Homo sapiens: one gene and its partners. The protein of the gene in region 4 purifies or fractionates together with the protein of the main gene of each other region. This does not show direct contact. Each region holds a gene or a part of one and is shown on either strand. Other genes may lie near its edges.

Region 1 (7,933 bases), on a different chromosome or scaffold from region 4:
GTGGTTGGACTTCATAAGTGCCTGGAACTCTTCCCAGAGGTCTGACGGATAGGTTGAAGAGGGAAAGAAGAATTTGGAGCAGAAAGTTTGGGTGGTGTCTCTGATGCAAAAGAGAGAGGGGAGCACACAGGGTTGGATAGAAGCCAGAGGTGTTGCAGAGCAGCTGGGCCCGCCTCGCTGAGTCTGGGCCACCAGAAGGATTGGACCTATTGTCCTAAGTGAGACAGATGTCGGAAAAGGTTTTCAGCAGAGTAGAGAGATCATTTTGTTATGACAGGTTTCAGTTACAAATCAGTTTATGTTGGGAGAAGTATTTTTTTCTTAAATCCACTGTGACCTCTTCTCTGACAAAGGGGGTGTTTGCCAGCTGCAGCAGCCACTAGGTCAGCTTGGTCATGGGGTGGGTGGCATGGCAGGGCAGGGCCCAAACTCGGGAGAATGGGACAGACTGTTATCACTAGGGACCTGCTGTTACCAGGGAAACTGTTAAAATGAGCTGGTTTTCATCAGGTTATTGTAGGATGGAATACATTTTTTGGAGACAAGAAAGTTTTGTGGAAACAGGCATTTATTCACAGATGATTGAAAGCCATATTTACTGGTGAAATGTATGTGCCCCGTGTTTAAAGTGACTTGTGGATTTGCTTTTTCTTTTTTAAATAGGACATTGAAGAATCCCTTTTGGAGCCAGGTACTGATAAGAGAAACACGACAGTTATGGTTTGAAAGTTTTCACACTATTATTTTAAAGCTGTCTATATTTTAAGCTGTGTTATGATCTTGTAAATTGCTCTAATGGTGGACAATCCAGATCATACAAGGATCAGAGATTGGAAACCCATTCGTATCACCAGATCTGTGGAAGAGCCATTCTGGCTTCTTGAGGTCAAATACATTTGGTGCAATGTAGTAGTGATTCTTTTCATGTCTAACCACGTAGAGTGGCATTTAATTCCCCCGTCCCCGTGATTCCTCCATGTGTTTCTACACATGAAACAGATCTTGTGATATTTTGCTGCAGTCATTTTGATTAACGCAGTTAAGGCAGGATAAAGCTGTTGTCAGGGCACTTACCACCTGAGAAGTGACTGGATTCCAGAAGAGGAAACAGAGTTTCTCCGTGAAAATTTTCAACATATTATTCCCCTTCCGGACTGCGTTTATCTCCCACCGTCAGAAGAGATTCTGATTTTCATATTGGATTGTTCTGTTAAAAGAAATTCAAAGAAATTTGGAAGTTGAGCTGTCATTGAATGGTGATTGCATTCGGTTCAGCACCTTGGACATTGGAAAATCAGTCAGAAGACCCAGACTTGAACAAAAACTCGAAGAAGACTATTGAGAACCAGCCGCGTGGTTGTAGGTGTTTAAATCTGTGGGGGCCTTTTCTCTTCCGTGTAGCGTAGAGGCTTACCTAGAGGCGGTCGCGGCGCAGGTAGTGTAACCAGTATAACTTTGTGTACCCGCGGGTTTTCCAATCTCTGTGTAGCTAGCAGTTCTCTTCGTGTTAGTGTGGCAGCCGTGCCAGTTCCACATTTGTGATTGCTTTATTTCCCTGGTAATTAAACCTTGTGCCATTCTATTCCTGTTAAATCCGTAGAAAATGAGAAAATACTCGACATTTTGGGGGAAACTTGTAAATCTGAGCCAGTAAAAGAAGAAAGTTCCGAGCTGGAGCAGCCATTTGCACAGGACACAAGTAGCGTGGGGCCAGACAGAAAGCTTGCGGAGGAAGAGGACCTATTTGACAGCGCCCATCCGGAAGAGGGTGATTTAGATTTGGCCAGCGAGTCAACAGCACACGCTCAGTCGAGCAAGGCAGACAGCCTGTTAGCGGTAGTGAAAAGGGAGCCCGCGGAGCAGCCAGGCGATGGCGAGAGGACGGACTGTGAGCCTGTAGGGCTAGAGCCGGCAGTTGAGCAGAGTAGTGCGGCCTCCGAGCTCGCGGAGGCCTCTAGCGAGGAGCTCGCAGAAGCACCCACGGAAGCCCCAAGCCCAGAAGCCAGAGATAGCAAAGAAGACGGGAGGAAGTTTGATTTTGACGCTTGTAATGAAGTCCCTCCGGCTCCTAAAGAGTCCTCAACCAGTGAGGGCGCTGATCAGAAAATGAGGTTTGTTTTTTCTCAGTTTTAGACCAGACGCTATCTCCTTTTCATTGGTCATGTAATGACACACATAAGCTGTTTTTTTCTGCAATTGGCCAGCCAGACTGACGAAATTGTAGTTTTGCTTCTAAAGAATGTTTCGTTTCTCTTTGTGTGTTTTTAATGGGTGATTCAATTCCTTTTCTTTTTCTCAACCTACCATGGTTGTGTTCTTAAATTGTTAATTGTTATCTTCAGCTAAATCGAATTGACTTTTACAAATCTGACATTGTATTTTTGGGGTCAGATTTTCCAATATAAGCTTGCAGAGGTGTCTGTTAAAATTTTATTTCAGACTAATTTTCTGGTAGGTATTCAGTTTTAGCACATAATCATATTTTTAGTTTTGTTCTCTTTCGTTTTTTTCCTGTATGAGTAACATTAACTTTTGTCTCTAGCTCTTTTAAGGAAGAAAAAGATATAAAGCCAATCATTAAAGATGAAAAAGGTATGATTTAATTTAACGTGGTAGGGAGCCAGGTATGGTTCCCTTATTTTGGGAGGAGGGGCCTGGAGATATACACACTTTGGATTCAGTAATTTGTTTTGTTATGGGTTACCGGAATCAACCACCTAATGGTTTCTTGAGAGACTAGTTTTAGAAGTTCGCAAGCACCTGCATTTTATGTTTCTCTTGTGGTTGTCATCTATGGGATGGTGAAAAGCACATTACAAGAAAGGAATAATTCTGCTCATTGAAGACTGTTTCAAGGATTTTAGAGACTGCCGTCTTGGATGAGATCTGATCATCAAAAGACATTTCAGTTCATAACTGACATGGGCATGATTATTCCTTGAGTAAGGAAACTCAGTTTTTGCTGTCCAGATTTTCAGCCTTCTGTGTGTTGGCATGTGTGTGTGCGTTAAATTCTTAAGTCAGCAGTTGGGATTGGGCGTCGTTAGGGTTTTTAAAGAGGGCTGCGGTCTTAAGAATGGTTGTGCTTCCTGTTAGGCCTTGGGGTGATGCCTAAGAATCTCCCTCTCGTGCCAGGTCGGGTCGGCAGCGGTTCTGGTCGGAACCTGTGGGTCAGCGGGCTGTCCTCCACAACACGCGCTACGGATCTCAAGAACCTTTTCAGCAAGTATGGGAAGGTATGCCTTCCCTTGCCTCATACCATCCACTGTGATTCAGAGTTAAAAAGGAAGCTCTGCTGGGCACGGTGGTTCACGTCTATAATCCCAGCAGTTTGGGAGGCTGAGGCAGGAGGATTGCTTGAGCCCAGGAGTTCAAGACCAGCCTGGGCAACATAGCAAGATGTTGTGTTTACTAAAAAATGGAACGACAGCAGCGAAGCTCGCCCAGTCTTGTGCAGTGCACCTTGTTTCCTGACTCACAGTAACTAGGGTGCGGAGCAGGGCAGGTGGTTGGTCATATCACAACAGTGCTCAGAACAGCTGTATAAACAGCTTCTCTCTCAATGTTCTTGGGGTTCTTTCTAACTGGTCTCAAAGAGACTGGTGGTCTTTTGTCTTGTGCAAAACTTAAAGCTTACATGATGAGATTTTTCCCTTAAGAATAATTTGGGAGGCCGAGGCGGGCGTATCACCTAAAGTCAGGAGTTGGAGACCAGCCTGGCCAACATGGCGAAACCCTGTCTCTGCTAAAAATACAAAAATCAGCCAGCCGTGGTGTTCTGTGCCTGTAGTCGCAGCTACTCGGGAAGCTGAGGTGGGAGAATCACTTGAACCCAGGAGGCAGAGGTTGCAGTGAGCCAAGATTGTGCCACTGCACTCCAGCCTGGGTAACAGAGCGAGACTATGTCATAAAAAAAAAAAAAAAAAAAAAGAATGAAGTGAATAATTGACTTTCATATCATTTAGCATTTTAAGTATATAGTCTCATAACTAGAACATGATCGTGGTTCAAAAATAAATCACTAAGATGCTGCTCATGGGGGTGGGAGAAAAATAGTACAATTCAGCAGCTTTCCAAAGGAAGGTGAGGACAATTTAAAATGATTCCACTGTTTGAAATTAATTAAGAGTCTTCTTTTTTTGTTTGTTTGTTGTTCTTTTTTTTTTTTTTTTTTTTTTTGAGACTGCGTCTCGCTCTGTTGCCCAGGCTGAAGTGCAGTGGTGTGATCTTGGCTCACTGCAGCCTCCGCCTCCCTCCCAGGTTCAAGTGATTCTCGTGCCTTAGCTTCTCGAGTAGCTGGGATTACAGGCACCCACCACCATGCCTGGCTAATTTTTGTATTTTCAGTAGAGATGGGGTTTCGCCATGTTGGCCAGACTGGTCTCCAACTCCTGACCTATGTGATCTGCCTGCTTGGCCTCCCAAAATGCTGGGATTACAGGCGTGAGCCACCGCGCCTAGCCAAGAGTCTTCTGGTAAGCAATTGGCACTGCCCTGGTCTCCTGGGTGCCTCTGGGGAGTGGCTTCCAAGGGACAAGGTTCGGACCATTTAGTGTCTGGAGGGTGCCCTGATTCCAGGCAGAGTGGGCCCTGTCTGACACAGTTTTCTGGCTACAGAAGCCGTTCCTTTGTCTAGGTCTGTGTCACCCGATCAGGTGTTGGTTAATGTTTCATTGCTTAAGAAGCGGACAGGACCCGGAGAAAGCGTGCTGTTCAATTTTTCTCTGAACAGTCTGTGTGTTCAGCAAGGGCTTAGGAAATTCTTATAGCCATGAATAACCTGTTTATTCAGTTACTTTGTTGACTTCACTCGGACACTGATGATTAAGCAGAGGTAAACATACGTGGTCACTGTCATCACAGATTTTTTAGTCTGGCGGGAAAAAGACCATTTAAGAAATAAACACATATGATGTGTTGTGATGAGCGTATTAAGGAATATTAGAGCACGCCGTCAGTGTGTTGGGGAGGCCGTGTTTAGATTTGGGAGGCAGCTTCAGCAGAGCTCGCTGAAGAAGTGACATTCAGCTGAGGCGTGAGTGACAGAGTTGGCCTTACCTGTGGGGCTCAGCTCTGGACAAAAACAGAAGGACGTAGGAAGGCCAGAGGGGCAGGACACCACTCAGCTACTTGACTGAAGTATGCAGAGCCTCCAGGGCGGATGGCATAGCTCAGGGATAGGGACATACAAGCTTAGTATGGTGCCTGCTCTCATTTGGGTTTTGTCTGTCATCAGAAGAGATATACTTGTAAGGATGATTAATTTGATGGGAAGGTAGAATGGGAAGTGGCATCTGTGTTTCTCTCAGGAGAGTCTTCTGTCCCTTTGGCCCTGGACAGATTCAGGCAGAGCCTTGACTCCTCCATTTGTGTGGTCAAAACCAAGGACGTCAGATGGGAACCTCAAGCTTGTGGGTTCCACCTTGTCATTTCACAGTTGGGGCCATGAGGTCCAGAGACGGGGAATGCCTTGCTTAGGTTGATGCCCTGAGTCAGAGATAGGGCAGAGACCAGGACTCCTGTGTCCCGGGGAAATGTTTACTCTGCGCGCCAGTGGTGGTGGGCTTGGCGTTAGATCTACTGTCTTGTTCTCTATTTTCTGTTCATGTTTGTTTATTGATCTCTTTTTCCCATTTATCTGCCTTCTTGTGGGTCGAGTCCTTTTTATGACTGATGGCTTATTTGCTCTAACTCTGTGTCATTGTGGTTTACTGTAGGATTACAGTACACATCTTCCCTTACAGTCTGTCTGCAAGGGGTGCTCTGTTGGTTTCAGCGTAGTGCAAGAACTCTGTGGGAATATACTTGCATTTCCCCTCCCGTCGATCTTTGTGATGTTATTGTCATACGGTTTACTTCTCTTTAAGAAGTCACCCAATATTTTATTGGCTTTGACTTGTTGTGGTTTGGCTTTTTTGCTTTGAACAGTTGTGTTTTTTTTTGTTTTTGTTTTTGTTTTTGTTTGTTTTTGAGACGGAGTCTCGCTCTGTCGCCTAGGCTGGAGTGCAGTGGCGCGATCTCGGCTCACTGCAAGCTCTGCCTCCTGGGTTCATGCCATTCTCCTGCCTCAGCCTCCCAAGTAGCTGGAACTACAGGTGCCCGCCACCAGGCCTGGCTAATTTTTTGTATTTTAAGTAGAGATGGGGTTTCACTGTGTTAGTCAGGATGGTCTTGATCTCCTGACCTCGTGATCCTCCCACCTCGGCCTCCCAAAGTGCTGAGATTACAGGCGTGAGCCACCACGCCCAGCCAAACAGTTATATTTTAAAGAGACCCAGAAATGACAGGAAAAAATCATGTTCACCTCACCAGGTGCTCTTCGTTGCTTTTTGTTGTATATCCAAGTTCCCATCGGAGATCATCTTCCTCCCTCCTGAAGGAATTGAATGTTTCCTGTAGTGCAGGTTTGCTGGTGATACGTTCTTGTTTCTTTTGCATGTCAGAAAAAGTCTTTACTTTGTCTTCATTTTGAAATAAATTTTCACTGGGTATAGAATTCTAGGTTAATTTAATCTTTGTTCCTTCAGTTACCAATTTGTGTCTTTTCTCTCTCTTTTTCTGTGGCTGCTTTTAAGTTTCTTCTGGTTTTTTTGTTTTGTTTTGTTTTCCCTTAGAGACAGGATCTCACTGTGTCACCCAGGCTGGAGTACAGTGGTGCTCACTGCAGCCTCGAGCTCCCGGGCTCAAGCGATCCTCTCACCTCAGCCTCCTGAGTAGCTGAGACCACAGGCATGTACCACTACACCCAGCTAATTTTTAAAATTTTTGGTACAGATGTGGTTTCTCTGTGTTGCCCAGGCTGGTTTTGAACACCTGGCCTCAAGTGATCTACCTGCCTTGGCCTCACAAAGTGCTGGGATTACAGGCATGAGCCACTGTGCCCAGCCTGTGCCTGGTAATTTTTTACTGGATGTTGTGAATTGTATTTTTTGGGTGCTAGTTATACTTGTATCTCTACAAATACCCTTGAGCTTTTTTCTGGGACACAGCTGAGGTACTGGACACACACTAAGGCAGGGCCAAAGTAGCCTTCAGTTTGGGCTGATTTTGTCTCACCACTGGGCAGTGCCCTCTGAGTAGTGGGTCTGATGGCCCGTGAATTACCAGCCTTTCCACCCTGGCTATTGGGAAGAGCAAACCATTTGTGGCCCTGAGTGCCCCTCCAGTGGTTGTTCCCTCTGCTCCTGATTGTTCCCTCTGCTCCTTATGGGTGGTGCTGTCCCAGCCTCTGGTTTCCTCGCACACGTGTGCACTGGGTGGGAGGAACCCTCTGTGGGTCTCTTCAGCTTGCTCTGCGTGGCTCTGTGTGGCTGTGTCCTCTCTGATACTCAGTTCCGTGATTTCTCTCTGTCTTGGTCTCAGAATCTCAGTGCTGTCTTACCCATCCCCCATTGCCTGGGAATCTAGGCAGTGAGCAGGGGCAGTCAGGGAGCTCTCAGGGATTGTTGTCTTGGGCAGCCTGATGTCCAGGATCTGAAAACTGTCGTTGCCTACGTTTCATCACATTTGTTAGTTGTTTCAGGCAGGAAGACAATGCTTAGTTCTCCCATCTCAGCCAGAAGTGGAAGTCCTTTCCCCATGGGGACATTTCTGACAGTCCATGTCTGTGTCAGAGCTCTTCTCAGGCCCAGCTGGAGTGGATGGGTGCATTTCTTAGTAGCCCCACAGCTGTTTGTGGGCACAGTGGAAATAGAGAAAACAATGTGGATGGGTAGGACTTCTGGTTATTAGTTGTGAGTAATGAAGTTTAATGGTTTTATAACCTTGCATGTTTGTGTGTTTTCCTTGTGATGACTTATCTTGTATTAAAAGCAGTTGTATTTAGTGGCTGGGTGCGGTGTCTCATGCCTGTAATCCCAGCACTTTGGGAGGCCGACTTGGGTAGATCACTTGAGGTCAGGAGTTGGAGACCAGCCTGGCCAACATGGAGAAA
Region 2 (8,752 bases), on a different chromosome or scaffold from region 4:
GGGGGCTGAGGTAGGAAGATCACTTGAGCCAGGGAGGTCAAGGCTATAAGTGAGCCATGATTGTACCACTGCACTCCAGCCTGGATGACAGAGCGAGGCTCTGTCTCAGAAAAAAATAAAATTAAAAAAACAAAAAAAAGTCATGGGAGGCTGAAGCAGGATAATCGCTGGAACCAGGGAGGTAGAGGTGGCAGTGGGCCAAGATTGCACCACTGCACTCCAGCCTGGGCGACAAAGCAAGACTCCGTCTCAAAATAAATAAATAAATAGGCCGGCTGGGCGCAGTGGCTCACACCTGTAATCCCAGCACTTTGGGAGGCTGAGGCGGGTGGATCACCTGAGGTCAGGAGTTCGAAATTAGCCTGGCCAACATGGTGAAACCTCAGCTCTACTAAAAATAAAAAAAATTAAAAAAAAAAATGAGCTGGGAGTGGTGGCAGGCGCCTGTAATTCTAGCTACTGGGAAAGCTGAGGCAGGAGAATCGCTTGAACCCAGGATGCAGAGGTTGCAGTGAGCCGATATTGCACCATTGCACTCGACCCTGGGCGATAGAGTGAGATTCTGTCTCAAAAAAAGTAATAAAATAAATAAAATAAATAGGCTGGGCGCGGTGGCTCACGCCTGTAATTCCAGCACTTTGGGAGGCCGAGGCGGGGCGGGTCACTTGAGGTCGGGAATTCAAGACCAGCCTGGCCAACATGGTGAAACCCCATCTCTACTAAAAATACAAAAAATTTGGCCGGGCGCAGTGGCTCACGCCTGTAATCCCAACACTTTGGGAGGCAGAGGCGGGCGGATCGTGAGGTCAGGAGATCGAGACTGTCCTGGCTAATACAGTGAAACCCCGCCTCTACTAAAAATACAAAAAATTAGCCGGGCATGGTGATGGGCACCTGTAGTCCGAGCTACTCGGGAGGCTGAAGCAGGAGAACGGCGTGAACCCGGGAGGCGGAGCTTGCAGTGAGCCGAGATTGGCGGGGCGCAGTGACTCACGCCTGTAATCCCAGTACTTTGGGAGGCCGAGGCTGGCGGATCACAAGGTCAAGAAATGAAGACCATCCTGGCCAACATGGTGAAACCCTGTCTCTACCAAAAAGACAAAAATCAGCTGGGCGTGGTGGCACGTACCTGTAGTCCCAGCTACTCAGGAGGCTGAGGCAGGAAAATCGCTTGAACCTGGGGGGCGGAGGTTGTGGTGAGCCGAGATTGTCCAGCCTGGGCAACAAGAGTGAAACTCGGTCTCAAAAAAAAAAAAAAAAATTAGCTAGGCATTGTGCATGCCTGTAATCCCAGCTACTCCGGAGGCTGAGACAGCAGAATCGCTTGAACCTGGGAGGCGGAGGTTGCAGTGAGCCGAGATTGCACCACTGCACTCCAGCCTGGGAGACAGAGCGAGACTCTGTCTCAAAAACTAAAAAACTTGGCAGGGCACGGTGGGTCACACCTGTAATCCCAGCACTTTGGGAGGTCCAGGCAGGTGGATATAACCTGAGGTCAGGAGTTCTCGACCAGCCTGGACAACACGGTGAAACCCCATCTCTACTAAAATACAAAAAATTAGACAGGTGTGGTGGCGTGCGCGTGTAGTCCCAGCTACTCGGAAGGCTGAGGCAGGAAAATTGCTTGAATCTGGGAGGCAGAGGTTGCAGTGAGCCAAGATTACGACACTGCACTCCAGCCTGGGAGACACAGCGAGACTCTGTCTCAAAAACTAACTAAACAGGCAGGGCACGGTGGCTCACACCTGTAATCCCAGCACTTTGGGAGGCCGAGGCGAGCGAATCACAAGGTCACGAGTGTGAGACTGCAGGGCCAACATGGTGAAACCCCGTCTCTACTAAAAACACAAAAAATTAGTTGGGCATGGTGGTGGGCGCCTGTAATCCCAGCTACTTGGGAGGCTGAGGCAGGAGAATCACTTGAACCCTGGAGGCAGAGGTTGCAGTGAGCCGAGATTGTGCCACTGCTCTCCAGCCCGTGTGACAGTACGAGGCTCTGTCTCAAAAAAATAAAAATAAATAAATAAATAAATAAAAATAAAAAAGTCAGATGAAGTGTCAGAAGGGCTTGGCAGACAATGTTCCACAATGTTCCATCATGACACTGAAGAAGTACAGGGAATTCCTGCTTGGTGGGATTTTTGTTTTCCCCATTACTTAAAAGCAGATGGCCATCTAGAATTGTAGAATGGCCCCATTGAAACTACAGAGATGGGGCCCCTTCAGGACCATACCTTGAAAAGACAATGGCTGTCCTCTTAGATGTGGTCTATGTTCTCAATCAGTGATTTTGTCCATAACCCAGAATACATGAGGTCCAAAAATCAAGGTGTAAAGGAAGGAATGGCACCATCCACAATCGAACATAGTGAGCTACTTTGGTGTCCTTCCTTTCCATTCCTACAAACCTGAAGTATTAGTTCTTGGTGTGTTAAAGAAAACTTTTTGGACAACATAGCTATGAGCATGAGTGAACATTTTATTACAATCTTACATGCAAGGAAAAAAGGTCTCTTGTTGGCCAATTAAGATTCACTCTAATAGGGACATTTTATAGGAGAAGAGAATAATTATCTAACCATTAGATCTGAGATTGGATCCAGAAAGACGATAGTCAGGGTAAAGGTAACACAATTCTTGGCTGGCAACTGGGGTACCAGGTGGGATGGTGGGGGGAGCACCAGCTTCTTAAAACAAGTTTCATCCACTGATGATTTATTTTAAGCATTTTGTCAGGAATTTTCTTCTCGCTGTGTCACCCAGGCTCTAGTGTAGTGGTGTGAGCTCGGCTCCCTGCAACCTCTGTCTCCTGGGTTCAAGCGATTCTCCTGCCTCAGCCTCCTGAGTAGCTGAGACTACAAGCAACTGCCACCACACCCGGCTAATTTTTTTTGTATTTTTAGTAGAGACAGGGTTTCACCACGTTGGCCAGGCTGCTCCTGACCTCGTGATCCACCTGCCTAGAGTTCTCAAAGTGCTGGGATCACAGGCGTGAGCCACTGTGCCTGGCCTTATTTTTATTTTTATTTATTTATTTTTTTTGAGACAAAGTCTCCACTGGAGTACAGTGGCATGATTATAGCTCACTGTAGCTTCAACCTCCTTCAACCTCCTGGGCTCCAGTGATTCTCCTGCCTCAGCCTCCCAAGTAGCTGGGGCCACAGGTGCATAGCATGAAGCCGGGCTAATGTTATGACTTCTTTTTTTTTTTTTTTGAGACGGAGTCTCGCTCTGTTGCCCAGGCTGGAGTGCAGTGGGGCTATCTGCAAGCTCCACCTCCCGGGTTCAAACCATTCTCCTGCCTCAGCCTCCCGAGTAGCTGGGACTACAGGCGCCCGCCACTATGCCCGGCTCATTTTTTGTATTTTTAGTAGAGACGGGGTTTCACTGGGTTAGCCAGGATGGTCTCGATCTCCTGTCCTCGTGATCTGCCCGCCTCGGCCTCCCAAAGTGCTGGGATTACAGGCGTGAGCCACTGCGCCCGGCCATGTTTTGACTTTTTGAAGAAACTGGGGTCTCACGATGTTGCCCAGGCTGGTCTTGAACCTCTGGGCTCAAGCAATCCTCCTGTGCTAGAATTATAGGCATGAGCCACTGTGCCGGCTGCAACATTTAATTTAATTAAAGTCTTTCTGTCACTCAGGCTGGAGTGCATGATCTTAGCTCACTGCAACCTCTGCCTCCCGGATTCAAGCGATTCTCCCCTCAGCTTCCCGAGTAACTGGTGATTACAGGTGCCGGCCACCACGCTTGGCTAATTTTTTTTTTTTTTTTTTTTTTTTTTTGAGACGGAGTCTTGCTCTGTCATCCAGGCTGGAGTGCAGTGGTGCCATCTTGGCTCACTGCAACCTCCACCCCCTAGGTTCAAGCGATTCTTCTGCCTCAGTCTCCCAAGTAGCTGGGATTACAGGCGCGCCACACCATGCCTGGCTAATTTTTTGTCTTTTTAGTAGAGACGGGGTTTCGTCACGTTGGCCAGGCTGATCTCAAACTCCTGACCTCAAGTGATCCGCCAGCCTCGGCCTCCCAAAGTGTTGGGATTATGGGTGTGTGCCACCACGCCCCGCTGCCAGCTGGAACATTTAAAAAACAGTAGGATCCGCTGGGCGCGGTGGCTGACGCCCGTAATCCCAGCACTTTGAGAGGCCGAGGCGGGCGGATCACGAGGTCAGGAGATCAAGACCATCCTGGCTAACGCGGTGAAACGCCGTCTCTACTAAAAATACAAAAAATCAGCTGGGCGTGGTGGCGGGCGCCTGTAGTCCCAGCTACTTGGGAGGCTGAGGCAGGAGAATGGCGTGAACCCGGGAGGCGGAGCTTGCAGTGAGCCGAGATCCGCGCCACTGCACTCCAGCCTGGGCGACAGAGCGAGACTCTGCCTCAAAAAAAAAAAAAAAAAAGTAGGATCAATATACCAGGAAGTCACATGGTGCCTCTGTCTCCAGATTTATCACTGTTGACACGGTTTTTCTCTCTTCCTGGAATCTAAGTGGTCTTTGCTTTGTCAGGGCCTGAAATAAGGTATTTCTTTTCTTTTTTTTTTGAGACAAGAGTCTCACTCTGTTGCCCAGGCTGGAGTGCAGTGGCATAATCTCGGCTCACTGCAGCCTCGCGACCTCCCGGGATCGGGCGATTCTCCCTCTTCAACATCCCGAGCAGCTGGGACTACAGGTGTGAGCCATCATGTCCTGCTAATTTTTGTATTTTTAGTAGAGAAGGGGTTTTACCATGTTCGTCAGGCTGGTCTCCAACCCGAGCTCAAGCGATCCGCCCGCCCCGGCATCCCAAAGTGCTAGGATTACAGGCGTGAGCAACATCGCCCCGCCTGAAATAAGGTATTTCTTCTGCCTGGAACCATCTCTTCTTTTTCATGTACCAGCCTAAAAGAACAATTACAAGACCCTCCTCTAACACTCCACCCACCCCCTTTATTCTTTAACTCTGTTTCTCTCCCTTGGGGCATTATCGGTTAAGTTCCATGAAGACAGAAACTGTTCCCATGCTCCATCACAGGGACTGGCACTGTAGAAAGAGCTAACAAGTATTTAAGGAAGATCCCTGGATTCGAGGTTACAGTGAGGTATGATCGTGTCACAGCACTGCAGTCTGGGCGACAGAGCAAGACTCTGTCTCTTAAAAAAAAAATCTTGCTGTGCTTTTTAGAACTAATCCTATGACCGTGAACCGATTACTTAAAACACCGAACTTCAGTCTGCAAATGGGAATAGCAGCAGCTTATGTTAGGACGGTTATGAGGGTCAAAAGATTTTGTTTGTACAGTCTACGACACCGGCCAGTGTTTCTAGCTCTGCTATTTGAGAGCCTTCCATGGGTCCTACACCCCAGGTCCTTAAACTCCCCTGAGGGACTACCAAGCCCCGCCCCTCTCGCATCCAATGATGACATCATCGACTGGGTTGTCGAGTGACGTCACCTCCGGGCTGGCTGGGCTTCATCGCTTCTCCGGAAACCTCCGACTCTCGGCACCTGGCCTCCAGCTTTCGGTTATTTTTTTTTTCCCTCTCCGTAGCCTGAATTCCTTCCCTCCCATTCTCCCACCTAAAACTATTGGCTCTTCCCGCCTTCCTTCAAACTAGCAATTTTCGGTTTTTCCCTCTTGCTCTCCGGCGAATTCCTGAAAGTCGTTTATTCTCCCCTTCAGCCCCGCCCGTTCAGCTCATTCTCTTAATCGCATTACCCTGGCTGCTTTTCTTTCGGCTGTTTCCACCTCCTGCCACCCACCCGGACACCGCTTTCGGCTCTTTCCGGACCGTCTCAGTTTCTCCTCCTTCCCCGGTCCCGATCGGCTTAGGCTATTTATGGCTCCCCTAGGTTTCTCATGCTCTCTCTAGCCCCACCCATATCACCACCTTCAGCTCTTTCTGGCTCTCCCCCGTCGCCTCCTCGCTCCTGCTCAGCTCCTTTCGGCTATTTCCGCCTCCCCTCGGCCTCGCCCTTTGCCTTCGGCTCTTTCCGCCGGCCTTCGGGCAAGCGGTCTCTACCCCTCTCCTGCACGTGACACGGCCTCCGCCTCCGCCTCTCAGTTCCCCCTCCCATCTCACCCTTCCTCCCGCCTCAGCCTCTAGGCTGGTTCGGGCCGAGCCGCCATTTTGTGTCAATTCCTGATTGCGGCGGGGGCCGGGCAGCCGGGGCACCCAGGGCGGGCAGAGAAGGGAGACAGTCGGCCCGTCTCCGCGGCCCGTTCCCTCTCTCCCTCAAATCCTTTTTTTCTTTTTAACCCCCCACCCCCCTCGCTCGCTCTCCTCTTCTCCCCTTACCCTTCGCTTGCTCCATCGCGCGCGGCCCGCGCTAATTACACCCAACCACCCACCAGTGTCCGTGTCTCCCGGGTGTCCCGCCCCCCGGGGGTGCGTGGGGGGGGGGCTCTCGCCCCTATGAGGGCCCCGCGCCAGTGAGCGAGTGACCGCAAGGGTGGGCTGCGGAGAAAGCAGGCGGCGAGCGGCCCTCCGAGGCCTAGGCCGTGCGGCCTACGCGGAGGTCAGCGCAGAGGTGATTCCGAAACCGAAAAAATATATACCCCATTCCCATCAGGAGCCCTCCGAGCTTAAGTGTGCCCCTCCCGCCACGCCCAAGCAGTCCTTTTTCGTGCATTAACATCCCCTCCCCCCCAAAGGAACTATGGAGGCCGCGCCCGGGACCCCCCCGCCGCCGCCATCAGAGTCGCCGCCGCCGCCATCGCCGCCGCCGCCATCAACGCCTTCGCCTCCTCCGTGTTCCCCCGACGCCCGCCCGGCCACCCCGCACCTCCTCCACCACCGCCTCCCGCTCCCTGACGACAGGTCAGGCCCCCGGTTGGGCCGGGGCTGCGTCCCCGGGGGGAGGAAGAGGAGGAGGAGGAAGGGGGGCGGCCGCCATGTTGGGCCGGGCCGCGGAGGAGGAGGAGGAGGAGGAGGAGGAGGAAGGGCGGGGTCGGTGGGTGTCTCTCGATCGCTTGCTCGCTCGCTCTTTCTCGCTTGCTTTCTCTCCCGGCCTCATGCGTTTCCCCCCCCTCGCGGCGCTCGCCCGCTCTCCCTCGCTCTCGCTCTGTCTTTTTTGGGCGCCATGCTGAGGGGAAGGTGAGGAGGCGCCCCTCGGACCCCCCGCGCCCGTCCGCCTGTCCTGGGGAGGGGGCGCCGTGGGGGGTGCTGCGGAGACCCACGGGGGTCCTGGCTGCCCCTGCGCCCGGAGCTGGCAGCTACGGGCCCGCTTGCCCGTCGCCTGGCTTCGGGGAAGGGGATGGGGGAGGGGCTCCGGACCCTTTTTGGGGGGATCTCGAACAACAGCCCCGCTCTTAGGGGTTTGGGGTTGGGGGTCTCCCAGCCCCCGGCAGTATCCTTTCTCCTGGGGGAGGCACACCCTGTCCTACTTGGATGATAGGTACTTTAGCTTAGGAGGCAGAAGGTGGGGGTTCATTCAGGTCCCTTCTCCATCCTTGTAATTGGGGGTCATTTGGGTGGGTGCTCTATAGCACTTGTATTTTTTGGCGGGGGGTGTTTTTTAGCTATCCCCTAGAAGGCCGAATTGGGGAGGGGGGAGATGCATCTCCAGCCCTTTTGATGAAAACCCCAGCCTATTTTTTTAGAGAAGACTCTTCCCCGTGTTTTTGCTAAAGGGCAGGGGTCCTCTCGCTTTTCGTAGGTAGGTGACGTGAGGGAGGATTCTCAGCCTTGTTTTGCGGGGGTAAGGTTTGGTTTCCCTGCCTTGTAGGGAGAGGAAGTTGGTCCCGCGCTTTCTCCTGGGGTTCCCCCCTCTGTCGGGGTAAAATGGGGCACCGTCTCTTCCGGGAGAGAAAAGGAGATTTCCTTGTGCTTTGGCAGGGCGTTAAAGGAAGCGCCCCCTTCTCTTTATTAAGTCCGAAACGCGGGCCCCCCACGCCCTTCTCTGGCTGGCGGGTGATAATGGGGTCAGCCCGGCGCGTTTCAGGGCGAGGTTGGGGCCCCGTTTCCTTCCCCTGCTCGAGCAGAAGGAGTTGGGGTGCAGGGTTCGCCCACTGTTTCCTGGTGGGGCGAGAGAAGAGGCGGCTGGAGAGTAGGTTTGGACACGGACGGTGGGTTTCAGCCGGCAGGAAAGCGAGTCTTGGAGGGAATGGGGGTGGAGAGGGGAAGAGAACGCTCTGGACAGATGGCTACTCCGTCGCAGCCCTGGCTGGGGAGCCGCTGAGGACCCTTCCTTAGCCGGGGGGTCTCAGCCAGGGCTTCCCTTGCCAGGCTGTACGTACGACCCCTTCTCCCCACTCCCACCTCCCCTTTCCCCTTTCTCCTTCACAGACCATACTTTGCCTTTTAAAAGAAATGCCACCCACATTCAGAGACACAAGTGCAGCAGTTTGGTGAGCTTTTACAACATTTTTTTTTTCTGTTTTGTTCTAATTAAATGTATCGTCCTGGGAATCGCAGCCCATCGCAGCCCGACTCCAGTTCAAGGAAATAAACAGATTAGCAAAGGTCTGTTCGCTAAGCCCTCGTTGGGCTTCCGGGCCCCCTCTCCGGGGGCAGGTGCATTACTCAAAGGTGCTTACACGCTTTATTCGACCTCTAAGGAGTTCTCTTATGTCAGAAGTGTATGTCTTACAATGGGTTGGGATGGTAAGTAGCCTCTTTTATTGAGTAATTCAATGATCTCCCTCTTTTTCTCCCTTTACTGCCTGCCTTCCTCCTCGCCTTTAGACCAAAGTGATGCTTGAGAGTGAATTGATATGTTCGAATCAGGATTCTAACCCTGTTGAGCCCTTTTAGACTTGCACATCCTTTCA
Region 3 (7,933 bases), on a different chromosome or scaffold from region 4:
CGCCCGCCACCACACCCAGCTAATTTGTGTATTTTTAGTAGAGACAGGGTTTCACCGTGTTGGCCCTGCTGGTCTTGAACTCCTGATCTTGTGATCTACCTGCCTTGGCCTCCCAAAGTGCTGGGATTACAGGCGTAAGCCACTGCACCCGGCCAATTTTTTTTTTCTTATGGAAAATCTCAAACATGTACGAAAACAGAATATCACATAATGACCACTCACGCCCCACACACGTGCTCATCATCTGGCTTCAGCTGCCGGCCCTGCTGCTTTTTATTTTGATGTTATAAAATACTGCTGTCCCGGTATCAGTATCTTTGTGTGTGCCCTGTCCCCTGAGGCAGTTGTTGATGAAAAGTGGTTATATTTCAGAGGGTCTGGGCTATCACATGCTTAACTGTCTACTTCACATCACACGCGGGTTTGGAGCCATAAAATGCTAAAGCGGAAGGACCTCCGCCAGGGGCCAGCCAGGTAGCCCACCCTGTGCTACAGAGGTGGCATCACAAACATAAGTTGCAGCCCTTCCAGAAGCGGCCTTGTTTACCCAGAACCCACTTCCCTCTCAGTCACCTGGTTTGCGGTGCACTTAGCATCCCCTTCATTGTGGGTGCCTTGAATATTCTTCATAAATAACAACTGATGGTTTTTTAAAATACTGTATCTTATTGCAACCAGTTAGCTCTTGTCAAGAGCCATTTATCACAGCATCTGAAAGAGAAAGGGACTCTGTGTTCATTGAGTGGTGGGGCGGGAAAGATGATTTTTTCTTTAGGGCCTCCATATTTCCCTTAAATTTAAGCCTTCTGGATATTCTAAGAGGAGGGATTGCTTCTAAACTTCTGTCACGCTGGGTTTGACATTTTCTTACAGGTGTGGAAAATGGTCTAACATAATGCCTGTCACAAAGTAGGTAAAAATGTTTGCTGAATAAAGGCATGGATTCTGTAATTTTTGCTTTGTAAGAAAAGGCTATTTTTTATCATGGGGAATTTTTTAAAGAGACCTGTTTATAGTGGAGTCACATCATATGCCTCCTGAAGCAAATTTAGATATATGCTGAGCCATGAATTTTTTTTTTTTTTTTTAAAGAAAAATGAGGCCGGGCACAGTGGCTCACGTCTATAATCCCAGCACTTTGGGAGGCCGAGGCAGGCGGATCACGAGGTCAGGAGATCAAGACCATCCTGGCTAACATGGTGAAACCCCATCTCTACTAAAAATAGAAAAATTTAGCCAGGCATGGCAGCGGGCGCCTGTACTCCCAGCTACTCAGGAGGCTGAGGCAGGAGAATCGCTTGAACCTAGGAGGCAGAGGTTGCAGTGAGCCGAGATCGTGCCACTGCACTCCAGCCTGGGCGACAGAGCGAGACTCCATCTCAAAAAGAAAAGAAAAGAAAAATGACAAGAATTGGCCATTTAAAATTGCAGGTGACTGCCCTGGCATCAGCGAGTGTGCCCTTGCCATGAAGTCCCCAGTCAGTGCGGTTCTCACAGCATGGTTCAGGGGCTCACCCCAGCCCCACGCCATGCAGTGCACATCTGCACAGGTCTGCTCTGACGGCACGGCGTCCCCCACCGTAGACCCTGCATATGATGTGGCTCCATGCTAGTCATCCCCTTCCCAGCAGCCGATGCTCAGGTGGGTAGCAGGGCCTGCAAAGATTTCCACTCTGTAACATGTATCATAATTCTCACCTTTCCTCAATAGCTTCCTTTGCTCCAATAAGCTTTGCAATCAAGGCCAAAGAAAATGATCTGCTTCCCCTGGAAAAAAATCGTGTTAAGCTAGATGATGACAGTGATGATGATGAAGAAAGCAAAGAAGGCCAAGAAAGTTCTAGTAGTGCTGCAAACACTAACCCAGCAGTTGCCCCACCCTGTGTAGTTGTTGAGGAGAAGAAGCCTCAACTTACCCAGGAGGAGCTAGAAGCAAAGCAAGGTTTGTTGATAGCTTTTAAACTTCTTGAAAGAAAGGAAATACACAAATATAAGATTTATCTGCTAAGCCAAAAAATCTCGAGGCTGCCAACTAGAATCTGAAGCCTTTGGAAATCGACCTATTTGGGAGTTGTGTAACATGTCTGAGGTTTTGAAACGTTCTCTTTTAGAGGAATGAGCTCTGCTCTTCACTGAGCCTCAAATGCAGTGCCGCTGGCAGTTTGTTTTCGAAGAAACTGAGTTGGCCGTCTTAGCTCTAATGCGCCACAGTGGAATGCATTAATGGCAGCTCACTTTGCACTTGGCTGGCAGCCCCAGGGTAAAAGGCTCAGCCTGTCTTCCCAGCTCAGGAACCAAACTAGGAGATGCCCTCTTGTGAGGCTGCCTACCCACAGAACCATTGGGCCCTTGAAGGTGGTGTGTCCCCAGCTGGTTTTCCGGCTGCGGCTCATCTTCATGGGCCGCAGTGTGGCCACCACACCCACCCCAACACTGCTGGCAGCATGGGGACAGCATGTAGTCTTCCCATCCCGACTCCAGAATAAATTCTGCTCTGCATTAAAGCAGTCAAATAATGGTTGCTGCATTGTGGTTGTTATCTATTCTAACTGATTTTCTTAAATTGCTTTTCCTGTATACACACATTCAGATCAAGCAACATTTGAAAGAGGCCAATTTTCAGGCCAGGCGCGGTAGCTCATGCCTGTAATCCCAGCACTTTGGGAGGCTAAGGTGGGTGGATCACCTGAGGTCAGAAGTTAGAAACCAGCCTGGCCAACATGGTGAGACCCCATCTCTACTGAAAAAACAAAATTAGCCGGGCGTGGTGGCACACGCCTGTAATCCCAGCTACTTGGGAGGCTGAGGCAGGAGAATCGCTTGAACCCGGGAGGCAGAGGTTGCAGTGAGCTGAGATCACGCCATTGCACTACAGCCTGGGCAACAAGAGCAAAAACTCCGTCTCAAAGAAAAAAAAAAAAAGCCATTTTTCAACCACAATCCACCATCAAGAACTTCCATTGTGCTGTGGTGTTCTCCCTAAGCAAACTTGTACTCATGCCTGTACATCTGAATCTGTCCTTCCTGTGTGTAAACTAACCAACTGTCGGATCATTTGGAATAAAACACTTATAGAGTATTCATTGCCTGGTGTGAATATTTTGGATATATGCTGAGAGCCACTCTGAGGTTTTCATTATTCCAGCTTTCGTTAGTGTAGAGTCTCACCAACCTTCTAACTCTGAAAGTAAAATGTCCAAAAAAGGGCACGTTATAAACTAATTCTCTCAAAATTTGATTTGTCCAATGTATGTACCTATTCAGAAACTTTAACTAACTGCATTGTATGACACTTTTGCAACCTGTGAAAATTAAGATCAGATAAAATACTGTTTGCTCTAAACTTCTCTTTTTTCTTTGTTTATTCCTTAAGCAAAGCAAAAGCTGGAAGATCGCCTCGCAGCTGCTGCCCGGGAAAAGCTGGCCCAGGCGTCTAAGGAGTCAAAAGAGAAACAGCTTCAAGCAGAACGTAAAAGGAAAGCGGCGTTATTTTTACAGACCCTCAAAAATCCTCTGCCGGAAGCAGAAGCTGGGAAAATTGAGGAGAGTCCTTTCAGTGTCGAGGTATAGTAAAATCCCACATTGGTATCTGCGGGGCTGTGTGATACATAGAGGCAGGGAGGATGTGTCTCCCTCCAGCTGCCCTAGTCTCTGGCCTGAGTGAGGGATATGAGCTCCCAGCTCTTCCTCCCGACATGGTTGAGTGGCTTTTACTCTATAGCAGTGAATCTAAGAGTTTGCCAGCAGTCTCCCCCGTCAGTGCACAGTCACGCCAGCAGCAAACACTGCCCGCGATTTCAGGGGAGCCTCTGCTTCACGGCTGCCCTTATGGGGCTGGCAGGAGGGCTTGGGGAGTGCCTCCCATGGGTCCTGCTGGGGAAATGTGGTGGACACACTTCACTGAAGCCCCGCCTCCGCAGCAGCACCAGTATTGCGCTCACACGTGGGGCAGAAATCCTTTTGCCACGGTCTGTATCAATGTCAGCACTTTAATTAAAGAGAAAAAGGAAGAGGGAGTTAAGAGAACAGACTCCAGGAGTACATGGCTCCTTCCTCAGTGGTGTGAGCAGGAATAGGGCCTTACATGGGGGTCATCACGTGGCTGCCTTACAAGTCTCCCTGCCAAGGAGGGGGTGCTCAGAACAGTGCCTCAGACCAGAGGCCTTCAGTAGACACTGGCTCCTGAGTGCCAAGGGGATTGCTCCCTTGTGTGTCCGAGACCAGAGGCCTTCAGTAGACACTGGCTCCTGTGCCAAGGGGATTGCTCCCATGCGTGTCCGAGACCAGAGGCCTTCAGTAGACACTGGCTCCTGTGCCAAGGGGATTGCTCCCATGCGTGTCCGAGACCAGAGGCCTTCAGTAGACACTGGCTCCTGTGCCAAGGGGATTGCTCCCATGCGTGTCCGAGACCAGAGGCCTTCAGTAGACACTGGCTCCTGTGCCAAGGGGATTGCTCCCATGCGTGTCCGAGACCAGAGGCCTTCAGGAAACACATGCCTTCCGCAGCAGCAGCACAGCAATTAATCATAATCAGCAAAAACTCTACTTTTTTTTTTGTCACATCAATTTAGAATCTTTTAAGTTTAATTTTAGATTCTTTATAGTAGTTATGTCTCTGAATTTTATTTTGTATTTAAACTACAAGAATATGCAGAAATTCTTTGGGGAGTTTAGGAGCATTTTGGAGACATAACTCTTAAAGTAAGAAAAATAATAGAGTAGGACACATCCTTTGAGGATTAAAGGAGGGTTGTCTTTGTATCAATAAACTGTGACAAAACTGGGCATTTTAGTAGCTAGTCCTGTAATTGTAGGTGAATTAAAAGCTGACAACATTTGAACTATAATATTAGAATGGGTTTACATCTACAATTAGACAATAGCTAAAAAGTTGTGGTTTTATGTTATTTCAAGAACACTTAAAAATCATTTTATAAAATCTTTCTCAACCTAATCTCTCTCTTTAAAAAAATGAATGAACACAGGAACAGAAAATCAGACACCACATGTTCTCGCTTATAAGTGGGAGCTAAACATTGAGCACACATGGACACAGAGAAGAGAACAGCAGACTCGAGGGCTTCATTGAGGGTGGAGGGAGGGAGGGAGGAGGGTGAAGATCAAAAACCTCCCTGTTAGCTACTATGCTCACTGCCTGGGTGATGAAAGAAATAAAAGTTGGAAAGAATAAAAAAGGTAGTAACTCCGGGAATTTTACTTTTTGAAAAGTTTCAAACCTTCAAAAAATTGGAAAGAATGGGAAGATGCCCCCAGCACCCCAGGCGATTGCATGCGCGTGCTCGCTCATCTATATGTGCGCACGTTGACCCACGCGTGCTCGCCCTCTCTGAGAGTCGTTGCATATGTGGTGACTGCTCTGCCCTGAATACTGCAGCTGCATTTCCCATGAAGGGCCTTCTCCTGGGAAACACAGCACTGCATGCAGATTGTCCACCGATGGTGTCCATCACTTCCTCTGCAGGCCGCAGCCACGTTGCTCCAAGTGGCCCCACGTGTCTTTTGTAGATCTTTTTTTCCCAAAGTACAGAATGAGCCTTTCACTTTAATTATATTGACGTTTCTAAGAGTCCAGGGCCATTATTGAAAACTGATTTTCTGCTTGAAGTCACTTCGCTTATTTTTCTGTGGAAAACAACATTCTAAGCTCAGACTTTTCAAATGATGCTGAAGGCTGAATCAGCTTTCTTGTTTTGGGAGTCAGTCTGAAATCCTCTCACATCTGGCAGGAGGCCTCAGAAATAATAACTGACGGGCAAGGAGGGGAGAATTAGAAGAGCAGAGAAGATGAGTTTGTGTGAGACCCTGTCGAGTCCCCGAGTGCCGCAGGGTGGGCTCCTGCCCTGAGTCCCGAGTGCTCTGGCCACCCGCTGTAGCCTCAGCTCCTCTGAGCCATTTGACATGCCAGCCCCAGAAACGAACATTTTCAGGCAAGGTGGGAACCCCCAGCAGCCCCCCGGGACGCCGTCTCACAGCCTTTCCACAGCTCTTCAGAGTCGGGGCTGCCTCCTGGCTCCTCACTTCAGCCAGTTATGGCCGAAGGATCTGTGGTCATTCCTTAGCTTTAATAGGATTTCTTGGCTGGACGTGGTGGCTCATACCTGTAATCCGAACACTTTGGGAGGCCAAGGCGGGTGGATCGCTTGAGGCCAGGAGTTCGAGATCAGTCTGGGGTCAACATGGTGAAACCTCGTCTCTACTAAAAATACAAAAAATTAGCCGAGCGTGGTGGAGCATGCCTGTAATCCCAGCTACTCGGGAGGCTGAGGCAGGAGAATCTCTTGAACCTGGCAGGCAGAGGTTGCAGTGAGCCAAGACTGCACCACTGTACTCCAGCCTGGGCGACAGAGCGAGACTCCTTCTCAAAAAAAAAAAGGATGTTCTGCAGCAATAAGGGGATGAAATACACAACAACAAAAATGATCATGAGGACGCTTGTAGCCACACAGAAAATGCTTCTGATGTAATAAGCAGGAGAAGCACAGTATAAAATATATCCACTTCTGTGGTTACAGCCATGAAAATATGCATGTAGCAAGGAGGGAAGGGAATTTAAGAAAGTAAGGGACCTGTTACAGTGGCGTACGGGTTCTCATGTTTTGATATCGTTTGTGCAGCGGGTAAAGGGGTTAATTGAAAGACATTCACAGGAATGCTTTAACCAGTTACATTACATGACTATACGTGTATGTCGTCATAAAATTTCCAGTGAAACTCAGTCACAAGTATAATTTATCACTAGCCCAGTTTTTCCCAATCTGCTGTAGTTCCGCATCACAGCAACCAGAATTATTTCCTTATAAACATAAGATATGTTACAGCTTAGGTCTGTGTCCTATTTATTTATTTTATTTTATTTATTTATTTATTTGTTTGTTTTTTGAGACAGAGTCTTGCTCTCTCGCCCAGGCTGGAGTGCAGTGGCGCAGTCTTGGCTCACTGCAACCTCCGCCTCCCGGGTTCACACCATTCTCCTGCCTCAGCCTCCCGAGTAGCTGGGACTACAGGCACCCGCCACCACGCCCGGCTAATTTTTTTGTATTTTTAGTAGAGACGGGGTTTCACCATGTTAGCCAAGATGGTCTCAATCTGTCCTATTTATTTTTACACGTACCCTCTCACCTCTCCTGTTTGCAGGCATTGGTTTTTGAATCTGTAGAACATAGAAATGAGCGTTTAAATCACTAGGATGCTCTCCCTGGATATATGTGTGTGTCTGTGTATGCAGATTACAGCTACCAAGCCATTTCAACAAAAATGTAATGGTTGTAGCAGATGATGATAAATGTCTTTAATTGCTTCTGAAACAAAAATACTTGTAATTAAATTGGCAATTGCCATAAAGAAAATTCAAACTCGAAAATATTTTTAGCCTAAAACAACTTCTGGGACAGGTTACCCTTGACTTTACTAAGTATTCTAGCATCTGCTTTACTCGCTGATGTTGAGACATTTGACCCAGCTATGTAGTTGTGAAATTCTCGGAGTCCAGGAGGACTTGAGACAAGACCACATTCGGCCACCGCACGCCCTGGGTGAGGAAGCCTGCGTGGCTGAGGGCACGTCGGCACCAGGAGGCTCATGGCACCCCCAGGTCTGTCGGGGCCGTGGCTAGCTCGGGCTGGCTCTGCAGGGTGGCATGAGGACACTCCCTTACACAAGGCCTGGCATAACATGGCAGGAATTTTGCTGTCACCTTAAAGTTAACTGAAAACAGCCACAGTGCAGCTTATGTGCCTGAAGGACAGTCACTTCTCTGTCTTTACTTTCTATAAAACTGATGTATACATATGATTTTTAAAGTTCCAATGCTAGAGAAAGGTATAAAACAAAGAGGAGAGGTCCTTTCTTTCTTGTGTATTTTTTTAATTCCTGTGGAAATGGCACTTTTTAAAATTCCTCCAATTCTCTCCCT
Region 4 (6,109 bases):
TATGAGTGGAACTGCTGGATCATACGGAAATTCTATTTGTAAATTTTTGAGGAACCACCAAACTGTTTTCCAAAGCAGCTACACCATTTTACATTCCCACCAGCTGCAAATGAGAATTCCATTTTCTCCACATCCTCAGCAACCCTTGTCATTGTCTGTCTTTTATAGCAATCCTAGGGAGTGTGAAGTGATATCTCACTGTGGTTTTGATTTGCATTTTCATGATGACTAATGATTTTGAGCATCTTTTCAGTGCTTGTGGGTTATTTTATATCTTCGGCGAAATGTTCATTTAGTTCTTTGTCCATTTTTAAGCTGGGTTACTTATATTTTTACTACAGAGGAGTTATAGATGTTCTTTGTATATTGTAGATACGAATTCCTTATATATGTGATTTGCAAAATTTTTCTCCCCTTCTGCAGGTTGTCTTTGCAGTTTTTGATGCCATCATCTGTAGCATATGAGTCTTTAATTTTGATGGAGTCTAATTTATCTATTGTTTTCTTTTGTCACATATTTTTGGTGGTATAGCTGAGAAATCATTGCCCAACCCAAGGTCAAACTATTTATTCTGTTTTATAGTTTAGCTCTTACATTTAGGTCTTTGATCCATTTTGAGATCATTTTTTATATGGTGTGAAGTAACGTTCTAATTTCATTCTTTTGCATTCATTCATTTGTCCCAGCACCAGTTGCTGAAAAAACTATTCATTCTCCTGTTTCTTTGTCTTGGAACCCTTTTCAAAAATCAATTTAATATAAGAATGTATTTATGGACGTTCCTTTCTGTTCAATTGATTTATGTGTGTATCTTATGCCAGTATCACACTTTGTTGATTGCTACAATTTTATAGTAACTTTTGAAATTAGGAAGTGTGAGTTTTCCAACTTTATTTTACTTTTCAAGACTATTTTGGCTCTTCTGGGTTCCTTGCATTTACATATAAATTTTAGAATCAATTTATCAGCTTCTGGGATTTTGATAGAGATTACATTAAATCTAAAGGTCAATCTGGGGAATATTGCCATCTTCACAATATAAAATCTTTTGTTCCATGCGTCTCTTCATTTTTCTATATCTTCTTTAATTTTTTTGAACAATGATTTACAGTTTTCAGTGTAGAAGTCTTACACTTTCCTTGTTAAATTTATTCCTAACTATTGTAGTTTGGGATGCAATTTTAAATAAAATTGTTAATATTATTTTCAGATTTTCATTGCTAGTGTACAGCAATAAAAATTATTTTTATATTGATCTTATATCCTGCAACCTTGCTAAACTTGTTTATTAGTTCCAATATTTTTAAAGGGCTTCCTTAGAATTTTATATATTCAAAAGTCATGTAATCTGCAATAAAGTTTTATTTTTCCACTCCAATATAGAGGCTTTTTATTTCTTTTTCTTGCCTAATTGTCTGGCTAGAACCTCTAATACAATGCCGAATAGAAGTGTACAAAGCAGACAACCTTGTGTTCCTGATCTTGGGGGAAAACACCCAATCCTTTGCCATTAAATATGATGATCACTGTGAGTTTTTCATAGATACCATTTGCCAGGTTGAGGAAGTTCACTTCTATTTGTAGCTGGCTGAGTTAACACACTTTTCATTACTTGCTTGATGTCAGTATTCTCTGCTAGACTATAAGCCTGGGTATGTCTTGTTTGTTGCTATTTCCTTAGCACAAAGCGAAACACCTACCCTGGAGAAACTAGTTGGTAACTTTCTCCCAAATAACCGAAATAAATCATTCTTTCAGGTTTATACCTTCCTTTGTTTTGTTCTCATCCTAGCATTTGTTAGTATTAGCTTACATCCTAGTCTTCCTGCTATTTTAGCTATTCTCTATTTTCTTCCCCTTTGGTGTACTGGAAGGCAGGTAGTTAATATTATCTTGTTATTATCTCTAATACATCATGACCCATATTATCTTATGAAGGCCTATTTTTCCCTCACTTTTTTGAAAAATTTGAAAATTTCCCTCACTTTTTTGAAAAAGTTGAAAGTGTCCTGGTCACTTCAACTCTATCCAATATTCCCTTACTTTGCTATTACAAAGTTTCTTCTAGGAGTTCCAACACTCTGAGGTCAGCAAAGAGACTTTTATCGTTAGCCAGGATTCGATCCAGAGAAGTCCCTCTCCTTGCTCACTTGATCCTCCGTGTTACAAAGTGTCCCTGGAGCGAGCAAAGTCTTTGTCCTGAGTTAAGCGAGCTTCTCCCAGAGATGAGGGTTATTGGAGCTCCATCACCAGTCTACTTGGTTTCCAGGTCACTCCCTACAAAACTGTGTACAAGAGGTCTTTTATCTGCCCTTGGACTCACCGGGCAAGTTGAGGTATACTTTTGTTGTAAGAATACTTCTGTTCCTCTCTCTGGCTCATCTTCAACCCATCTGCTCTCCTCTGACCTAGCAGATTGGGATATAGGTATATGCAACTGGGATGAACTCCTCTTCCTCTCTTCCCATCATATATATTTCTTTTAAACAAAGTGTATGCCTTGTTGTCACATTGCAGGCAATACCTATGTTAAAATATGTTAAAATATGTTTAAATATAAAGTTCATACTTGAAAGAATGCTAACACTTAACTCATTGCTCTGTGCTCCTTGGACACTTGAGGCTGTATTGATTTTAATTGATTTCAGAGTCTAGAGGTTTAATACACGGCAAATCACACCCTGCTGAGAGTTTGTCTAGCTAATGTCATCTACATCCATGTTGATCTATCAATATGCCAGTAAAATGCCTTATTCTAACAAAATTGTCATTTATAACAATTTCCCACTGTATAAAAATACAGTTTCTTGAGGAAAGGGCCACCTTCTCCTATTCTGCAGGATTTAGGTGAAATATGACAACAGTGGCCCTGGTCTTACTGAGACCAACAACCATTTTCTGCAGGATGAGTCTACTTCTAGCCCAGTAAATCCATCTCTCCAATCTCATTCTGTTCATCAAAAGAAATTCTTTTCGAGAGACCTGGCTAGATGTTCGGTTGAAGACTGACACCCCAGGGCAGATGGAACTGTCAGAGTTCAAGTTAAACTCTCCTATACTTCTGAGTTGAGAGTTGTGAGTCTGGATGTGCCTCTGGTGATGTGAAAACACTCAACACCATTGGCAAGCATACACCTGGTGGTTACCAGGCACCTTGAGATGCCAGGGTGTCCAGCCTTCTGGAGCTGGCTTTGGAAGAAAAATGTATCCAACTGGGAAACCGACATGTACACTCCAAGGGCATAAACCAAGGAGGAGGAAGAGTTGGAATCCGGGAAACAGAAGATCCAACACTAGACAGAGACAGGGAAGTCCAAGGACCAGCGCTATGCAGCAGAGCAAGAGAGTGAGCCATTCCGAGAGGAGCTGGAGGGGTGGCCTTTGGGGAAAATGGGAGCAATTTTTGATCAGATTGCTTAATTATAGAAAAAATAATGTTCAGAGGGATTTTGAAATTCTGCTGGAGAGCTTTGGAAGAATTAGTAGGATAATGACTTAAACTAAGCAGACAAAAAAGTGAGGTAGTTATTAACTCCTGGAAGAATAAAGAGTTACAGAAGAGAGAAAATGTGATCCTAGAGTATTTTTTCACTCAGCAGTGAACAGTACATATATAATTGTAATAAAATACAAATGGAATATTGATTTAACAAAAATGTGACATAAATATATCAGAAGGAGGGAAGATGTAGACATGAAAGGGGGTTAGAAGCAACCCCACCCCATCTTGCATCATAAGAAGTCAATAGGCATTTAAAATTGACAAATCAAGAATTAACTGCATAAGCACATTACCTAGAAATATGGAGGTAAACATCAGAAGAAAGAGTTTAGGGAGGGGAATTTGGATAGAAATGGGACAAGAACCTGCTATTTTTCCTTCGTGCCTTGTAGTACTCTTTGAATTTTCTAACCATGTATCTTGGACTGAGTTTTCATGGAAAAAAAAATAGGCAAACTAGCAAGTAGTCTGAGAGACAAGAGAGGTGGAGGGAGGCAGGGAAGAAGAGTTGAGGCCTCTTTACCCCATGGGTAGGGCAGCTGGCTGATTATTGCAGAAAACATGACTATGCACGAATGTCACTTTATTCCAAGCCCCCTGCACTTGAGAAAAACCACTCCTCTGCAGAAGTCCAAAGCTAGCCATCTGGAGCTTGGATGGGACAGAGCTCAGGGCTGTTGTTACTATAGCAGCCCCTGGCCTCAGCCCTTCTAACCTGCCTGGAGATGGGAGGAACATCTCTCCCCCAAGTTTCCCTCCACTCCAGTGCCAGCCCTCAAGGTGCTAAAATGGGCTATGATATGAACTCAAGCTTGGGGCAGGACAGGTGGGGGGGTGCCCTTTAAGGAATTTTGAAGAATGGGGTAGGGTCATCCATTAAGGGGCCATGGGCACGTTGGGGTCTGTCAGCCTTGCCAGCAGGAAGTGCCAGTGCTTCCTTTACTGTGGGATGATCCAGAACAGCATCTTTGGAATGGGGCCCCACTTCCATGGTCACTCAAAGGAAGGAGTTTCTTTACTCACCCTTGGCCCTCTGCATTTGCACCCCCGTGTCTTTCTCTAGGACAAGCTCCCAGTGATCACTCAAGAATCTGGCTCTCATTCTAAGAGGCTGTGCTGCCCAGTATGGTGGTTGTGATAAATCTAAACCAGCCCTGCATGAAACAGAGTCCAAGCTGTCTCCCAACAGCCTGGGTTCGGTCCTTGGCTGGCCCAGGCCCAGTTAAGCCTGTGGCCACCAAGCAGCTCATCTGAGCACTTTGGGATGTATTCAGCCTACGTTGCCCTGGAAAAGGAAGCAGGAGATGTCTCCCTGTGGGAAAGGAGAAGAGAAGTTGTCTCTGAGTCCCCTGTCACCAGTTGGATTCATTTCTTGGAAGAGCCAGAATGAGCCACTTTGACCACCCTCGGGTGCTATGGGTGACACAAGAGCTGTCCACTGGGTGTTTGCAGAATAATTACACTATCTTATGTCTGGATCCTGATGATTTCACAGCTAAATGGCAAAAATAAAACATGTTTCCCATAAAGGTCTCTCATTCATATTCTGTCTTAAAAATACATTTGGGGAAGAGGAAAAGTACCCAGCAAGGCAGACGCTTCCCTCACTCTCTCCTCATCCATGGTGCGGTCACTGGGTGTCTCAAAAAGGTGAGGCCCACAGAGGATGGAAGAGATTCCACAGCATAACTGGGCCAGATCCCGCTCAGAAGAATTTGCAGTTGGAAAGCTCATTTCTGGATGCATCAACCCAGTAGGGGAATCGTTGCAAATGGGTGTGTCAAAAGGACAGGAAGGTGGGAAGCTTGCTGAGTGTGACTTTCTGAGTGGCACGGTCGGAGGACAGGATGGTGTGGACAGGGCTGCATCATCACACACACACCCATGCCAGGAGCAAGGGCAGTGCTCGGCAGTGATGGCATGCTGTATACAAGTACCAAACAGGCCCAAGTGACCTCATCCACAGGGACTGTTGTAAAGCCTCCACAGTCATTTCAAGTAGAATAGCTACCTGCCTAAGGAGTTGAACCCCTCTTGCTAATGCTTTTGAATAGCGAGAGGGTCAGACACACAGCAAAGTTTGGGACAGGTCACTTTGCCTCCCAGTCCCCTGCTTGGTTAGCCAGGATAGATGCCCATGTTTGTGAGCATGGACTTTGGAGTTAAAGCTAATATCTAAAGATCCTGAATCCTAGGCTGTCAGACTGCCCTGTTGCATAAGATTTTCTGCATGCAAAAAAACTGGGGCTGGCAGGTCAACAGAGACTCTGATAAGTGGGAAAATCCATAAGAATGAATAAGCCATTTCCTGCAGGATTCAAAGATGACCTTCACCCAGGCATCCAGGTAGAAAGTCCAGCCCACCTGCACAATTTGCTGCCACAACCACATGTCATTCCAAGCTCCTTTTGGGCCTGCTTGCACCCTGGAGGACAAGCAGAAATGGATGATTCTGCAGGCCTAGGGTCAGTGGTGAGCAGCCCCAGGGGTCTGCACAGGCTGGACTGGTGTTCTCAGGATACAGGGCAATTTCTTCCCTCACAGGGCTTTGCTCAGGGACCAGTCATTAATTTTCTCTTTAACAGGATTTAAAGGGGCAGGGTCCT

What was found.
Region 1: the proteins of CAPN13 (region 4) and SAFB2 purify together in Homo sapiens (affinity purification with mass spectrometry; 2 studies listed by BioGRID and IntAct, with this or other methods). This does not show direct contact.
Region 2: the proteins of CAPN13 (region 4) and ZC3H4 purify together in Homo sapiens (affinity purification with mass spectrometry; 2 studies listed by BioGRID and IntAct, with this or other methods). This does not show direct contact.
Region 3: the proteins of CAPN13 (region 4) and SFSWAP purify together in Homo sapiens (affinity purification with mass spectrometry; 2 studies listed by BioGRID and IntAct, with this or other methods). This does not show direct contact.

What each region holds. Positions count from the first base shown.
Region 1 is NC_000019.10:5,605,298-5,613,230, reverse strand, and holds part of SAFB2 (scaffold attachment factor B2), read left to right. Parts: intron 1-663; coding exon 664-691; intron 692-1,600; coding exon 1,601-2,111; intron 2,112-2,542; coding exon 2,543-2,592; intron 2,593-3,135; coding exon 3,136-3,236; intron 3,237-7,933. UniProt on the Homo sapiens protein: Binds to scaffold/matrix attachment region (S/MAR) DNA. Can function as an estrogen receptor corepressor and can also inhibit cell proliferation.
Region 2 is NC_000019.10:47,110,472-47,119,223, reverse strand, and holds the start of ZC3H4 (zinc finger CCCH domain-containing protein 4), read left to right. Parts: upstream 1-5,447; 5' UTR 5,448-5,504; exon of another isoform or gene 5,505-6,510; intron 6,511-6,634; 5' UTR 6,635-6,639; coding exon 6,640-6,800; intron 6,801-6,965; exon of another isoform or gene 6,966-7,062; coding exon of another isoform or gene 7,063-7,076; intron 7,077-8,267; exon of another isoform or gene 8,268-8,291; coding exon of another isoform or gene 8,292-8,329; intron 8,330-8,349; exon of another isoform or gene 8,350-8,562; coding exon of another isoform or gene 8,563-8,585; intron 8,586-8,752. UniProt on the Homo sapiens protein: RNA-binding protein that suppresses transcription of long non-coding RNAs (lncRNAs). LncRNAs are defined as transcripts more than 200 nucleotides that are not translated into protein.
Region 3 is NC_000012.12:131,762,745-131,770,677, forward strand, and holds part of SFSWAP (splicing factor, suppressor of white-apricot homolog), read left to right. Parts: intron 1-1,711; coding exon 1,712-1,942; intron 1,943-3,373; coding exon 3,374-3,564; intron 3,565-7,933.
Region 4 is NC_000002.12:30,721,694-30,727,802, reverse strand, and holds the end of CAPN13 (calpain-13), read left to right. Parts: intron 1-423; exon of another isoform or gene 424-1,204; intron 1,205-2,905; exon of another isoform or gene 2,906-3,569; intron 3,570-4,566; 3' UTR 4,567-5,032; downstream 5,033-6,109.